Homo sapiens: one gene and its partners. The protein of the gene in region 1 purifies or fractionates together with the protein of each later gene. This does not show direct contact. Each region holds a gene or a part of one and is shown in the gene's direction. Other genes may lie near its edges.

Region 1 (4,267 bases):
AAAATTGATTAATTTGAATTTCATTTTATTGTTGTTTCTACCTTGAACCATATTGTGAGTTTTTATATATGCTCAGCAAGTTTTAGCTTATCCACAGTTGCAGGCTCAGATGATGTTCCAATAAATGCTAAAAATTCATGAGAAGAAAAAAATGGGACTTAAAGTTTGCCTTTTAATCAATTCAGAATCTGGGGATCTTTTTGCCTTGCTTAGTTTTAATGCCAAGAGAACGACAACTTTTTAAAATACGTTTCTGTCTCTAAACTTCTCTAAAAATGTTTGGTATTCCTCAGCCTGGTATTCCTCAGCCCTTCATTCCTGAAATTCCTTAAAGGTCTGGGTATGTCCAACCCCATTAAACTGATTCAATTTATAAACTATGAGGCCACCTTCCTTTTCTCCAGTCCCCATTTCCAAAGGTAACCTCATTTTATTCTTCTCTCCCTTTAGATATGAACACAGTAATATTAACCTGTTTTGCTTCCAATTAGTGCTACTCCCTCCCAGAAATACAACTCACGAAGTAACCGAGGAGAAGTGGTTACCTCCTTCGGCTTAGCACAGGGAGTATCTTGGTCTGGGAGAGGAGGAGCTGGAAACATCAGCCTGAAGGTCTTGGGATGTCCAGAGGCACTAACTGGGAGCTACAAATCCATGTTTCAGAAGCTCCCAGACATTCGAGAAGGTGATTGTTTTTCCCTTTGAAATTCTGGTGGATATAAAACCACCTAGAAGGGTGTAGAGTAACAAAGCTTCAGCTAGGCTGGTAGAACAAGTTCCAAGGTTGCCTTTCAATGTATGAGTTGGTAGATGTCCTCATGGAAGCCCTAGTAATGGAGGGACACGGGCAATACTATCAGTGATTGCCCCAAGTCACTTCACTTTGCTAAAACGCACATAACCATTCCCAGCAGCAAAAACTTGAACGATGTAAAGGAATTCAACTTAAAGATATTCATGGTTCCTTCGTTAGAAGCCTTCTTCAGGTTGGCCTTGACTTGCCTAAAACCTCAGTGAGGACTTGAGTAAAGGGCAGACTTGGAGATGGGGTGGGGTTCATGCTGATTCCCTGGAATTGTGCTATGGGGTCTCCTGTGGCCAGATGGAAGGCCAGATTCAGCAACCAAATATCGGAAAATTGGCAAAGGTTTTAGAAGGTTTAAACTGGCCAGATGTCCAGGCACCCTTCCTGCTTCTGTAAAATGACTGACTTTAATATTTTACAATGTGCTGTATTTTCTCTTCTTGGCAAGTGAAATGTCTTAAACATAATACTTTTTTCCACTTCTGGGATTGTAGTTCTGACCTGTAAGATAGAAGAACTTGGCAGCGAACTCAAGGAACATTACAAGATTGAAGCTTTCACTCCTTTGCTAGCCCCAGCACAGGTAAGAGTTGTTCTAATAGTTCTCACTAATTAATATTACGTTTTTAAATCGATGACCAAGAGGCATCCTTCTTGCTTCCTTTTTCACTTCTTGTCTGTGTTCTAGTTTGAACATCTGTCTTGGTTGAATTTGGGAAAATGGGCCCTTCTGAAGAAAGATTTGTAAGTGCTGTCTGGTTTTGTGGCCAGAGAGTGATTTTCTTCCCACTTGGATTAGAGTCTTGCACATAAGCAGAGACTCAAGGCCTTGTTTCCCTTGGTGGTGAGTCAGGTAGCTCCCCGGGGATTTCCCACAAATAGAAGCATTCACGTATCGAGATAAAAGGACAGCAGCGACGGTGGGGTTTTCAGAATCTTGTTCTCTGGACAATGACTCACAGTCTCTCCCCTGGTTTGGTCTCTTGTTATAGACAAACTGCTGCCAATAGTATCTTTATATCATAGTTTAATCTGGCATATATACCAGTGCTTTCTCTCTAGAATGTTTTCTAATCTAAGGGGAAATATATTCTAGAAGTTTCTTTAAAGTACCTTTGTCAATGTTTACATTCAAAGAATGATCAGTTGGGGAAGTGATGCAGAACTGTGTCATAGAAGGAAGTGTTAGAGGACTTGGAAGGAAGTAATTGAGGGAAGGCAGGGAGGCACAATCACTGGGAAAGATGAGACTTCCTCTGTTTTCTCCCAAGAGTGGGAACAGAACAGAGGAAGCCATGGAGACAGAGATTTTAGCTCAATTAATAAAGAACTTCCTGTTAAGAGGTTGTATGGTATGTGGCTAAGGATATGGCTCTAGAGCCAAATTTCTGGTTTCAAACCCAAGCTTCACCCACAGTTTGACCTTGACTAAATTATCTAACCTTTCTGTTGCTTGTTTTCCTCATCTGTAAAATGGATACAGTAATATCCACCCGATGGTTGTTGCAAGGATTAAATGAGTTAATACATATAAAATGCCTAAGAATACATTTTAGAACAGTGCATGGTATTTAGTAAGCTCAAGAAATGTTAGCTATTATTAAGTAGTTATAGCTGCCCAAAGATGCAGTGGGCTGCCCTGGGGTGGTGAGGACAGGGTGGGGTAGGCATCCAGGGGCAAGTTCCCCTACACTAGAGATGCTCACACTTAGGCAGCCTCCTAGGAAGGCTCAAGTGCTGGGTGGATGGGTGGACAAGATGCCCTTTCAGAGTTCTTCCATCCTGAGAGTCAGTGATGACGCGGTAGTCACCTCAGGGTCAAAGCAATGCCCTGCCAAGAAATGTATTTGTTGTTTGCAGTTTGTTTTGCTATTCACCCTATCGACTTCAGATTTTGAGCTCCTGCTCCAAAGACTGTCATTCTTATGCTGTGACCTTCCTTTGGTAGGAGCCTGTCACTCTGCTGGGCCAGATTGGCTGTGATAGCAACGGGAAGCTGAACAACAAGTCAGTGATTCTCGAGGGAGACCGGGAACATTCCTCGGGTGCTCAAATTCCAGTGGATTTATCTGAGCTTAAGGAATATTCTCTGTTTCCTGGACAGGTGAGATTGGAGGAGTTCCACCAGAATGCAGGCGCACTCTTTACCCCTGTAGTGTAGGTGCTGTGCCATGCGCAGCTGCTCCTCAGTTCCTGTCTCTGCTGCCATGGGGTGCAGCTGGAGCACATGCCCCAGAGCAGACACCACTGTTGGGATTCCTGTTTCCCCCATGCTCTGACCCAGGCTCTGGGACCTGACTGCGCAGCCTCAAATCCCAACTCCCCGCTCCATGAGGTGCATGACTGTGCACAAGGTACTTAACCATCTAAACTACAGTTTCTTCACTCACAAAATGGAAATAATAATTCTTACCTCATAGGATTGTTGTGAAAATTAGATCACTTATATAGAGCATAATTATTATTACTAATGCAACGCCCTTAATTCGTTTTCTACAAAAATGCCCTAAGTTTATGATTACAGAATGAGAGTAGTTGGACAATGCTTTTAACTGCCTCAAAATAATGTATTCCAGACCTCATTGATCTCCACTGCTTAGCAATCCTGTTTGTTTTTGTCTTTCAGGTTGTAATTATGGAAGGAATCAACACCACTGGTAGGAAACTTGTTGCCACCAAACTCTACGAGGTACACAGCAGTACCCCCACTTGCCTCTTGGTTTGCTTCAGACAAAGTATGTCTGGAAGCTGTCTGTTCTAGAAACTGGTCCTTTTTAGGAGCCCATTTATTTGTTAGTCAGTTCTCCATCTGTAAGTGGGAACCCACCCCTAGGCCAGGGGTCAGCAAACCCTTTCTATAAAGGGCCAGACAGTAACTCTTTTAGACTTTGTAGCTATATGGTCTCTGTCACAATGACTCAATTCTGCCTTTGTCTACAAAAGCAGCCATAGAGGACTCTTAAACAGATGACTGTGGCTGTGTTCCCATAAAACTTTATTTAAATAGTGGGCTGCAGCCAAATTTGGCCCAGAGGCCGAAAGGTTACCTATCCCTGCTCTAGGCAACAATCCTCCAGAGATTTTCGTAGAATGCCAGGAAAAGTAGCAAGAAACCATTCTCTCCCATCCTTGCCTAGAAGTACACTGATACTTTAGGCACCTGTTTTGCTCCCACTTGTTGCTGGGTATTTTATGACAATTGAGTAGTGACCTCCCATTACCTGGGTTTCTTTGCCCTCTGAGCAGTATAGAAAAATGGCAGGTCCCATCAGATCCAGGGAGCAAGACAGAGGCACATCCTTCCCCTGCCCTCTCGCTCCTCCCCACTGTCCTCCCATCACACACCTGCACCACCCCCAACCTGGTGCCCTCCCCTTTCCTTACCAAGGTGATGCCTGGCGCAAGACCTTACTTGAGCTTTTCCCCTGTTTTTAGGGTGTGCCACTTCCATTTTATCAGCCC
Region 2 (3,557 bases), on another chromosome or scaffold:
TAAAATTCAATTCTCTCAGTAAATTTTCATAATTTTTATTTATGTAAATTATTTCTGTAAAGTTTTTGTCTTTTATCATGGGATTTATTTCCCACCACTAACAGTCCAATTACATTATATTCTGTTCTTGGTTTAAAGGAGTAACTTCTGGGGGTCCCGTATGTTTTGATGTGATTATGTGGCCATAAGACTGATTCCAGTAGCCACATGGAAATTCATTTCATTATTTTTTAGTTTATTTTCTGAGTATCAGTGAGAAGTATACGTTTTACAAAACTCACATATTTATCATTTTAAATCAATACATTCCCATGTTGTCATAGTTGTTTAATATTTTCAGTACCATTATTGGCATTATCCTGCAGGTTTCATGATAATAAAGTGAGATTATTGCCAACTATGACAACCCATTGAGTTATTTAATATTTTCTAGTTTTTTTTAAATCCATGAAATGCTCAATCATAATTCATCATTTAAAGCTAAAAATTGTGCCATTACTCCAAATAAGAGAGAGAGATTGTTTCCATTTTTTCCTAAGATCAACCATCAGTGTCCAAAATGTAATACCACCTATGTCCTTTGTGAGGTCTGTGAAACACACTTCATCTCCTTTTTGTGGGGTGGTTTTAAATAGAAGTTTAGTTCTGATTTTAAGTGATAAAATTTCATCTTTTCATAGGATATGAAGAGATCACATTTTATGAATATTTAAAGACTCAAAAATTAACCCCCAACCTCCAATATATTGTCATGCATTCAATTGCAATGACATCAGAGACAGCCAGCAGCACCATAGATGGTCTCAAAGCTACCAAAAACTTTCTTCACTGTCTTGGGCGGTATGGCAACACTCCATTTTTGTTTCCTTTATATGGCCAAGGAGAACTCCCCCAGTGTTTCTGCAGGTAAGTTTGCCATTGATTTTCTTGTCCCTTCTAAAAGTGATACTTGAATAACAGATGAAAATTAGGCAGGCAAAAATGAGATTTATTCAAGATTTAGTATATGCAAATATATACTTTATTCTATTTATTTTTTATAATCTATTTACCTACCTATCTACCCACCTAAGTGATATATTCAGTGTGGCCTCTTTTTGAGCTTGATAAAAATACTATAAATTCCTTTTTCCACTCAATAGCATGATGGAAAGTATTGTCATTGCATATAATTTTAGTTAATTTTTTATTACTATATAGTATGTTATTGTGAATACACCACAATCTATTTTTTCATTTTTCTGTTGATGAACACAGGATGTTTCCAGTTTTTTGAGGTTAACACCCTTGTGTATGTTTCAAGTTGTGTATGTTCAAGAATTTCTCTCGGAAACATATCTAGGGGTGGAATTCCCCAGTCCTGAGATACATGAATGTTAACACTTTACAACATCGTGTTCAGTTATTTCTCTAGAGGGCTGTACCAATTATAACCTTTTAGCCGTACATAAGAATACCCAAAGCTTTACATGTTTGCCAACATTTAAAATTTTTTTGTCAACCTAACTCACATAAATTATCATTGCATTGGATTTTTATTTTTCATTTCCCTAATTACCTATGAAGTTGAACCTTTTCTCATATGTTTACTGGCCATTCATGTTTTATCTTCAGGGAATACTTGTTTGTGTCTTTTTTTGTTTGTTTTACACATTTTTAAAAATTTTTATTTTTTGTGGGTACATAGGAGGCATATGTGTTTGTGGGGTACATGAGATAGTTTAATACAGGCATGCAAAGTGTAATCCATCATGGTAAATGGAGTATCCATCCCTTCACACATTTATCCTTTGTGTTGAAAACAATCCAATTATACTCTTCATTTTAACATGTACAATTAAATCATTATTGACTGTAGTCACTCTGTTGTAATATCAAACACTAGATTTTATTCATTCTTTCTAACTACGTTTTGTACCTATTAACCATTCCTACTTATCCGCTGCCCCCTCAAAACCCGCCCCAGGCTCTGATAACCATCCTTTTACTCTCTGTCTCCATATGTTTAATTGTTTTAATTTTTAGCTCCCGCAAGTAAGTGAGGATATGCATTGTTTGTCTTTCTGTGGCTGGCTTATTTCACTTAATATAATGACCTCCAGTTTCATCCATGTTGTCATGTTGTTGCAAATGTCAGGGTCTCATTCTTTTGTTTTTTTTTTTTTGGGAGATGGAGTCTTGCTCTGTCACCCAGGGTGGAGTGCAGTGGTGTGATCTCGGCTCACTGCAACCTCTGCCACCCAGGTTCAAGTGATTCTCCTGCCTCAGTCTCCTGAGTAGCTGGGATTACAGGCACGTGCCACCACACCTGGCTAATTTTTGTATTTTTAGTAGTGATGGAGTTTCAGCATCTTGGCCAGGCTAGTCTTGAACTCCCGACTTTGTGATCCACCCATCTCAGCCTCCCAAAGTGCTGGTATTACAGGCGTGAGCCACCATGCCCAGCCAGGATCTCGTTCTTTTTATGGCTGAGTATTACTCCAAGGTGTAACTGTACTACATTTTCTTTATCCATTTATCTGTTGCTGGGCACTTAGGTTGCTTCCAAATCTTGGTTATTGTGAACAGTGCTGCGACAAATGTGGTATGTAGATATCCCTTTGATACACTGATTTCCTTTCTTTTGGGTATATACCTAGCAGTGGGATTGCTAGATCGTATGGTAGCTCTATTTTTACTTTTCTGAGGAACTTCCAAACTGTTCTCCACAGTGGTTGTACTAATTAACACTCCCACCCACAGTGTTCAAGGGTTCCCTTTTCTCCGTATCTTTGCCAGCATTTGCTAGTGTCTTTCTTTTGAATAAAAGTTATTTTAACTGGGGTAATAAAATATCTCATTGTAATTTTGATGTGCATTTCTCTGATGATCAGTGATGTTGAACACCTTTTTATATGTCTCCTTGTCATTTGTATGTCTTCTTTTGAAAAATGTCTATTCAGATCTTTTGCCCAATTTTTAGTCATATCATTAGATTTTTTTCCTGTAGAGTTGTTTGAGCTACTTATATATTCTGGTCATTAATTCCTTGTTAGACGGGTAGTTTGCAGATATTCTCTTTCATTCTGTGGGTTGTCTTTTCACTTTGTTTATGGTTTCTTTTGCTGTGCAGAAACTTTTTAACTTCATGTGTTCCCGTTTGTCCATTTTTGCTTTAGTCGCCTGTGCTTGTGGGGCATTGCTTAAGAAATCTTTGCCCAGACCAGTGTCTTGGAGGTTTTCTCCGATGTTTTCTTGTAGTAGTTTCAAAGTTTGAGGCATTAGATTTAATTCTTTAATCCATTTTGATTTGCTTTTTATATACTGCAAAAGATAGGGGTCTAGTTTCATTTTTCTGCATACAGATATCCAGTTACCCCAACACCCTTTATGGAAAAGACTGTCTTTTACCCAGTGTATATTCTTGGCACCTTTGTCAAAAATGAGTTCACTGTAGGTGTGTGGATTTGTTTCTGGGTTCTCTATTCTGTTTTTTTGGTTTATGTGTCTGTTTTTATGCCAGTACCATGCTGTTTTGGTGACTATAGTTCTGTAGTATAATTTGAAATAAGGTAATG
Region 3 (3,557 bases), on another chromosome or scaffold:
TTTTGTTTTAAGAAGAGAGGACGTCACTTGACCTTAAATCATTCGTTTAACCCCAGCACTTTGGGAGGCCGAGGCAGGCGGATCACGAGGTCAGGAGTTCGAGACCAGCCTGGCCAAGATGGTGACACCCCGTCTCTACTAGAAATACAAAAATTAGCCAGGTGTGCGCCTGTAGTCCCAGCCACTCGGGAGGCTGAGGGAGAAGAATCACTTGAACCTGGGAGGTGGAGGTTGCAGTGAACTGAGATCGTGCCACTGCACTCCAGCCTGGGCGACAGAGCGAGACTCTGTCTCAAAAAAAAAAAAAAAAAAAAAAAATTTGATCATATGCTATGTATTCAGGCAGTGTGCAAGGTGTTAGGGATTCATTAGTGAGCAAAACAGATGTGGCCCCCACTCTGGCACTTAACTTGAAGGTTAAGATGTGGGAGTGTATGCCAGGCATAACAGGTACTACATAGGTTTTTTTTTAAAAAAAAATTCCAGCATCTTTTAGGTACTGACTGTGTACTTCAGCTAATCTTCATCATTTATGTATTTAGAAATTGTGACCTATAAAAGTTATTTAACTTTTTTTATAGCTCTTTTTTTTTTCCTTTTTACAGTTGGTGGGCCAGTTTATTGCTAGAGCTGTTGGAGATGGAATTTTATGTAATACCTATATTGATAGTTACAAAGGAACTGTAGATTGTGTGCAGGCTAGGTAAGTAAATCACTTTTCCTACTTAGAATTTCAAAATAGGGGAAAATTCTACAGGATCCTATTGAAATGACACTTGTGTTAATCAGACACTCTGTACATCTGTTTGTCACTTCTCTATATTCTCCACTGTTAAAATGGAGAGACTATTGGCATGATATACCAGGAAGAGGACAGTACTATAATGGAAAAGTTCTGGAGTTTAGCTAAATCATTAATTACCTTCATGTCAAGCCACTCTTCTTTGGGCCTCAGTTTCTTTATTTATGAAACAAAACCATTGGACAGATCTTTAAGTTCTGTTTTCAGGTTCTAGCATTGTGTAATAGTTTAATATTCTAATAAGATGGATAACCTTAAGAAGAGAGGCCTGATTTATAGTTTTATTTTGTATTTATCTACTGTAGAAATCTTAGTCAGAAAGTATCTTTTTCACTCTTGTGATTTAGTATAATTAATATGATATTTGGTATAACTAAATGTGATATTTGGGAGTTATGCTATTTGATTTTTCTTAACTTCTTGGAGACTTGGACTCAGCCATGTCTTAGTTTTCCTCAGGTCTATATATTAACTTAATTTTCTAGGGCTACTTCACATCATAGTGGAATGGTGTCCCTGGGTAGGAAGGCATGGATCTAGGTGAAAGTTAATTATATGTGAAGTGTTTCTTCTCAGTGTAGATCAGTTATTTTGTAATGTGTTTTGATTTTTCTTGAATGAGAAATGAAATAGAGCATGAGAATATTAACATGAGGATCAACTTCTTTTTGCTCCTTTTTGTTTTGAAAAAGTGTTTTGAATTTTATTTTGCTTTTATGTTATGTGAAAGATTTAGGGCATATAGGATTTTGTCAGCTTTATCCCTAATTTAGTAAACTTTAGGTATGTCCAGCTATCAAACTTAAATTTTTTTCTTTCTCTGTAGAGCTGCTCTGGATAAGGCTACCGTGCTTCTGAGTATGTCTAAAGGTGGAAAGCGTAAAGATAGTGTGTGGGGCTCTGGAGGTGGGCAGCAATCTGTCAATCACCTTGTTAAAGAGGTAATGATTGGGTATTGTTTTTAACTTAATTTATATGTATTCCTCTGAGTGAAATAAATTGTGGCTACTAGCTGGTATTTTTATGGACAAAAATTAAGTTCGGTCTTACAGCTGCAATTGGAAAATGAAATAATTTTTTTAATATGTGGCTTTATAACCTTTTATTATAAATTATATGATTAAAAAATGAGTCTGTTAAAATGGCTTTCATGAATAATTATAAGCAAGCCATCTATGAACTTCAAAGGAATGCCTGAAATCTTTTTCTTATAGTATTATTTAATAATTTTCAAATGCTGTTGAAATGAGATTTTCTGTGTTTTAGCTATTCAATAAATACGCTTTTATATGAGCAATTTAAAACTAGATAGTCTTAAATAATGAGTTATGAATTATGAGCACTAGAGCAGATCAGAGTGTTAGATTTTTGTGAGGACATTCACTACCCATATGCATGTTTTAAAAGAAAATTGATTGTAATCCCAGCACTTTGAGAGGCTGAGGCGGGTGGATTGCTTGAGGCCAGGAGTTTGAGACCAGCCTGGTCAACATGGTGAAACCCCGTTTCTACTAAAAATACATAATAATTAGCCAGGCATGGTGGTGCGCACCTGTAATCCCAGCTACTCGGGAGGCTGAGGCACCAGTATTGCTTGAACCCAGGAGGAGGAGGTTGCAGTGAGCTGAGATCACACCACTGCACTCCAGCATGGGTGACAGAGCAAGACTCTGTCTCAAAAAAAAAAAAAAAAAAAAGCGATTTATTGCATTAAAATGCCAGATTTATTCCCTATGGATTTTTTTTTTTTCTGGCTGCAATGTGGTGTCCTATAACAAGAAACCAAAAAACAGAAAAAACTCCTTATCTGCAGATCTCTTTAAGAAAAGGCATGCAACTAGAAGATTTGTAGTTCATGTGCTTCTGATTTTTGAGTATAATCTTTTCATGTAACTACAATTTTGATTTTTAGTAAGTCTTTTAATGAGGTGTGTGTGTGTGTTTGTGTATGTGTATCTAGCTTAAGTGTTAAGGAGTTCAAATTGTAGTTAGAGCCTTGACTGTTTTTGCTTTTATATATGTTAAAATAGATGAGTCAGTGTTTGTAATGTCGTGATTGCAGTATCTGTTTTTTAAAAATTAAACAATTATTAGAAAAATTGAGGTATAAAAATAGTCAAGATGCCAGGGCAATTAGGCAGGAAAGATAAAAGGCATCCAGATTGGAAAGGAGGAGATAAAACTAGTTGTATTCCCAGATAACATGATCTGTATACAGAAAATTTGAATGAATCCACATTTTTTAACTCCCCAAAACTGAAACCAAACTATTAACTAAAAAATGAGTTCAGAAAGGTTGCAAGATAAAAGATCAGTACACAAAATTCAATTCTCTATACAGTAGAAATGAATGATCTGAAATGCAATTATTGCATTTGTGATAGCATCAAAAATAAAATACTTAGGAATAAATTTAACAAGACAAATGCAAGTCTTGTACACTGAAAACTGCAAAACAGGTTGAAAGAAATTAAGGAAGACCTAAATAAATAGAATGATATCCCATGGTTATGGATGAGGATACTTAATATTGTTAAGATGGTAATACTCTCCAAAATTAATATTTTTGGAAACTGGACAAGCTGTTTTATGGTGTGTGAATTCTCTCTCAATAAAGAAAATTGACAAGATAAAAATGGAAATAAAACTGCCAGTATATGAGTTTGAGGTTGACATTATTTGGATATTTGCTTACATGGAAGGGTTGGATCAAAGAAGACTTTTAGAAATGTATAAATGTATTTGTAATTTATCA
Region 4 (3,557 bases), on another chromosome or scaffold:
GGAAAATTAGTATGATGCCATTAGCAAAAACATAAATTGCACTTAACTAAAGTTCATCTGGCTGAATTCTTTCCTTCCTTCCTTCCTTCCTTCCTTCCTTCCTTCCTTTCTTCCTCTATCTTTCTTTGGTTTTGAGATCTGTCTATAGTATTGTGCTAGTGCACATATTTTAATTTGGTGCAAGGCATGCTTAACAGAGTAAGTGAAAAGCTATAAAGGTTAGAGCGTGTATTAGTTTCAATGACGAAGGAGTAATAAATCATTTTGTCAGGTTGCACTCTAACATTCAAATTCCATTTTTATTATGGCTAACTAGCCAAGCATTTATAATTCTGAACTCCACAGAATGGGGAAAAAGTGTATTAACTTATAATAGATCATTGAGCTTGTTAAATGTACCTTTCCTAATTCGTACTTTTTCCCTTTTGCTGAGAAAAATGCCTTTCTGAATATATAATTTTTACAGGTCATTGGAAAGGAGTACTGCACAACAGGATTATTATAATGTGCTAAAAGATGGCACTTGTATCTCATTGCCACATAGAGAGCTCATGTGAAAACTCTTTGATCTTTGCTGGCTTTTTAGCTGAAAAGATTTGGAAATCTTTTTGGCACTGGCAAAAACAGAACTGTGGTAACTGTTTATAGTTGGTTGATTTTTAGCAATGGGTAAGAATGTCTTTGTTGAATCCAGTTTATTAATACGTAATGGGCAACATGTTGCCTTAAAGGCAAAAGCATATTTTTCTCATATCAAAAAGCTCCCTAAATTTTTGCCAATATCCAAAGATATTTTAAGATGGTCTTCATTTTCTTTTTCAGTCTGTCCTATGCTGAGAAAAAAAAATTACAACCTCTGAACTTCAGCAGTTTTTTAGGTAAAAGGAATTTTTCATGATGTGATTGATATAACTACTCAGCTGGACATAAGCTTTCAAGGGCTAAGTCCATTTGCCGATTTGTTTGCATTTCCTACTCCAACTAAAATAATTCAAAGACATGAAGTGTCTATTGTGGAAAATGCATGAATAATGCAAAAGTCATTCTCAAGTGACCTATCAGAAAGGCCTACCAGAAATGCAGTTACTGCTTTCTAATAAAATCATGAAAAACTTTTTTAAAAAGTATAACCATCTTGAATTTGTTGAGGCAATTATAAGAGAGTATATAAGGGCAAGTTTCTCCAAAAGCGGTTCTGTTTGTTTTGTTTTTTTTTAATAATTCCCATCAACAGCAATCTGTTTTCTCATTGTAGTAGTATAGGTGTTAACATAAAAGCTCAAACAGCTTGGGAGAAAAAAAAGGATATAGCAAACCTAACTGATAACTTTGCTAGTTTCAAATCATTATGATGGCCATTCATAGATGACTGAAATATTTAACATTTGAAGTAACAGAATTTTGACTTATGTTTTCATGGTTTAAGAGTTTATATTTCAAATTTTTTCACATAGTCTGTTTATAACAGTATATAAAACATGTATTAACTATATAAGTTAATAAAGTCATGAACTGATGGCCATTTTTTGGTCTTATTCATATAGTATAGGCTGTTTTGTGAATTAATCCCCTTCCCATGTGTTTGAATTCCCCACTATGTAAGGCTTAGTGGTGTTAGCATGATCCAAGGGTGGGATTTTCAGCCCTCTGACATCAAAAGGTGAAGCAGAGGACACAAAAACCCTCACTGCATCTTCCCTAGACTGGCCAGAACCACTCCATGGTCAGTGGACTCCCTTAATAGGAAGGAATGCTGGTCAGTTGTCAAAGAGCAAAAAGGGAGGGGTAGTCATGAGGTTGGTTGTAATCAGAGGTGCAACAGGTCTTTCCAAAGGGCTGGTTTCTGTTTAACTCTTAGGAAAGAACACCTAATGGTAGTTAGTGAGGAGGGGGTATAATGAGATGTGCCCAACCTCCCATCCCATCATGGCCGGGAACTCAGTTTTTAAGGTTTCCCTGAAGTCCTCTTGGCCAGGAGAGGGTCTGTTTAGTCAAATGTGGGGGGGGAGCTTAGGATTTTATTTTTATTTCCAAGTTATAATGTTGGACCATCAGAGCATGAATACAGGTTGAGTCTTTAATCTGTAAATACTTAGCAATCACCTTCTTCTCAGTAACTTTCTCTGAAGGTTGCTGATAAGCCAGTGTTCTTGATGTTTGCCCACTTACCCCTCAAGATGAGGAGTGAAGAAATTAGATTGCATTGCCAGGAATTTCCTAGAAGAAAAGGTTTTGAGGATGCATGACCTATGAGGGTGCTGAGGACCCCTTTCCACCAAACATGGACTAACTTCTGGGTTGCTCTTTCACATCTATTGTCTTGTTCGACGTACACAGAAGTGCAGAGCACAGCCGCAGCCCTCACAGCATCATCTATCTAGGTTCTGAATCCTGAATGGTCTGAGGCTCTCCTAGAGCTGAGATTCTCCTTTGCAGTTCCAGTGGAGAAAAGCACTTTCTTTGCCGAGGCAGTGTAACTTCCTTGTTCCCAAGGCTCCAACTGTTGTGGGCACATATGAGTATACATTAACATCCATGCCCAATTTATAATCACTGTTTTCCCCACATGTGTACTCAGACCTCCAAGCTTCTGAAAAATATTTCCTCTCATCTCTCAAAGAATTTTAGTACATTTGCCTGGATGCAGAAACACAAATCATGCTGGCTTTCCTACTCAATCAAAAACTGTAGCTTGAGTGGGGTGGCAAGGGTTGTCCCACAGCAGGTTTACTTGGACTCCAAAATGATGTAGAGTTTAGTGAGGCAGCTCCTTGAGTTTGAACTTAGAGCCCTTTTGGCTACCAGGGCACCTGCAGTCCTCCAAGATAGTAGAGTCTGAACCAGTTAAAGAGCCAGCTACCACAGCTTTGCAGAAACCACTGTTTCTCCTTAACTCTAGGGCTCAGCGGTTGAACTCCTTAGAATAAAACTTTCTGTCTGCGACCCTATCATTTTCTTTTGTATTTTGGCCTTCACTGAATTCCCACCCCATCCATTCCAACAGACTTGGTTATACGTGTCTGAACACCAAATGTGACAGAATTTGTGGCCTTGGATCAGGAGGCTATTTGGCCCTTATCTAAATCGGTGGCTGAGAATGGATTCCAGGGAAGTGTTTTTCTTAGGAGTACCCAAGAAGCTCAGCTCAGGTTGGGCTCCCTGTTCTATTCTGAGAACTACAAATCAAATTCAAAATGGAGCACAGAAAATTCTCATTTCTAGTTGACTTATTTGTATTTTGGTGTCCTGTGCCCTAAATATCTTCTCAAGGAAACCTTGGCTTTAAAAGTGATTGTTTACTTAAACAAATAAAACAACAACATACAAGAAAAGGCAGTAAATCCGAGCGTCCATCAACAAATGAATCAAAAAACAAATGAGATATATATGTACGGTGGCATATTATTCAGCCTTAAAAAGGAAAGAAATTTTGACACATGAGACAATATGAATGAACCTTGAAGACATTAATTATGCTGAGTGAAATAAGCCAGCCACAAAAGAACAGATATTGTATAATTCCTCTTATATTAGGTACCTAAAATAGTCAAATTGAT

What was found. Proteins that work in one complex are often made in the same cells at the same time.
Region 2: the proteins of POLA2 (region 1) and CHM purify together in Homo sapiens (co-immunoprecipitation; one large-scale study listed by IntAct). This does not show direct contact.
Region 3: the proteins of POLA2 (region 1) and PDCD4 fractionate together in Homo sapiens (co-fractionation; one large-scale study listed by BioGRID). This does not show direct contact.
Region 4: the proteins of POLA2 (region 1) and NCKAP1 fractionate together in Homo sapiens (co-fractionation; one large-scale study listed by BioGRID). This does not show direct contact.

Annotation. Positions count from the first base shown.
Region 1 is NC_000011.10:65,278,239-65,282,505, forward strand, and holds part of POLA2 (DNA polymerase alpha subunit B), read left to right. Parts: intron 1-491; coding exon 492-685; intron 686-1,299; coding exon 1,300-1,388; intron 1,389-2,753; coding exon 2,754-2,909; intron 2,910-3,431; coding exon 3,432-3,494; intron 3,495-4,240; coding exon 4,241-4,267. UniProt on the Homo sapiens protein: Accessory subunit of the DNA polymerase alpha complex (also known as the alpha DNA polymerase-primase complex) which plays an essential role in the initiation of DNA synthesis.
Region 2 is NC_000023.11:85,953,502-85,957,058, reverse strand, and holds part of CHM (rab proteins geranylgeranyltransferase component A 1), read left to right. Parts: intron 1-680; coding exon 681-906; intron 907-3,557. UniProt on the Homo sapiens protein: Substrate-binding subunit of the Rab geranylgeranyltransferase (GGTase) complex.
Region 3 is NC_000010.11:110,888,928-110,892,484, forward strand, and holds part of PDCD4 (programmed cell death protein 4), read left to right. Parts: intron 1-605; coding exon 606-703; intron 704-1,628; coding exon 1,629-1,743; intron 1,744-3,557. UniProt on the Homo sapiens protein: Inhibits translation initiation and cap-dependent translation. May excert its function by hindering the interaction between EIF4A1 and EIF4G. Inhibits the helicase activity of EIF4A. Modulates the activation of JUN kinase.
Region 4 is NC_000002.12:182,909,401-182,912,957, reverse strand, and holds part of NCKAP1 (nck-associated protein 1), read left to right. Parts: 3' UTR 1-3,557. UniProt on the Homo sapiens protein: Part of the WAVE complex that regulates lamellipodia formation. The WAVE complex regulates actin filament reorganization via its interaction with the Arp2/3 complex. Actin remodeling activity is regulated by RAC1.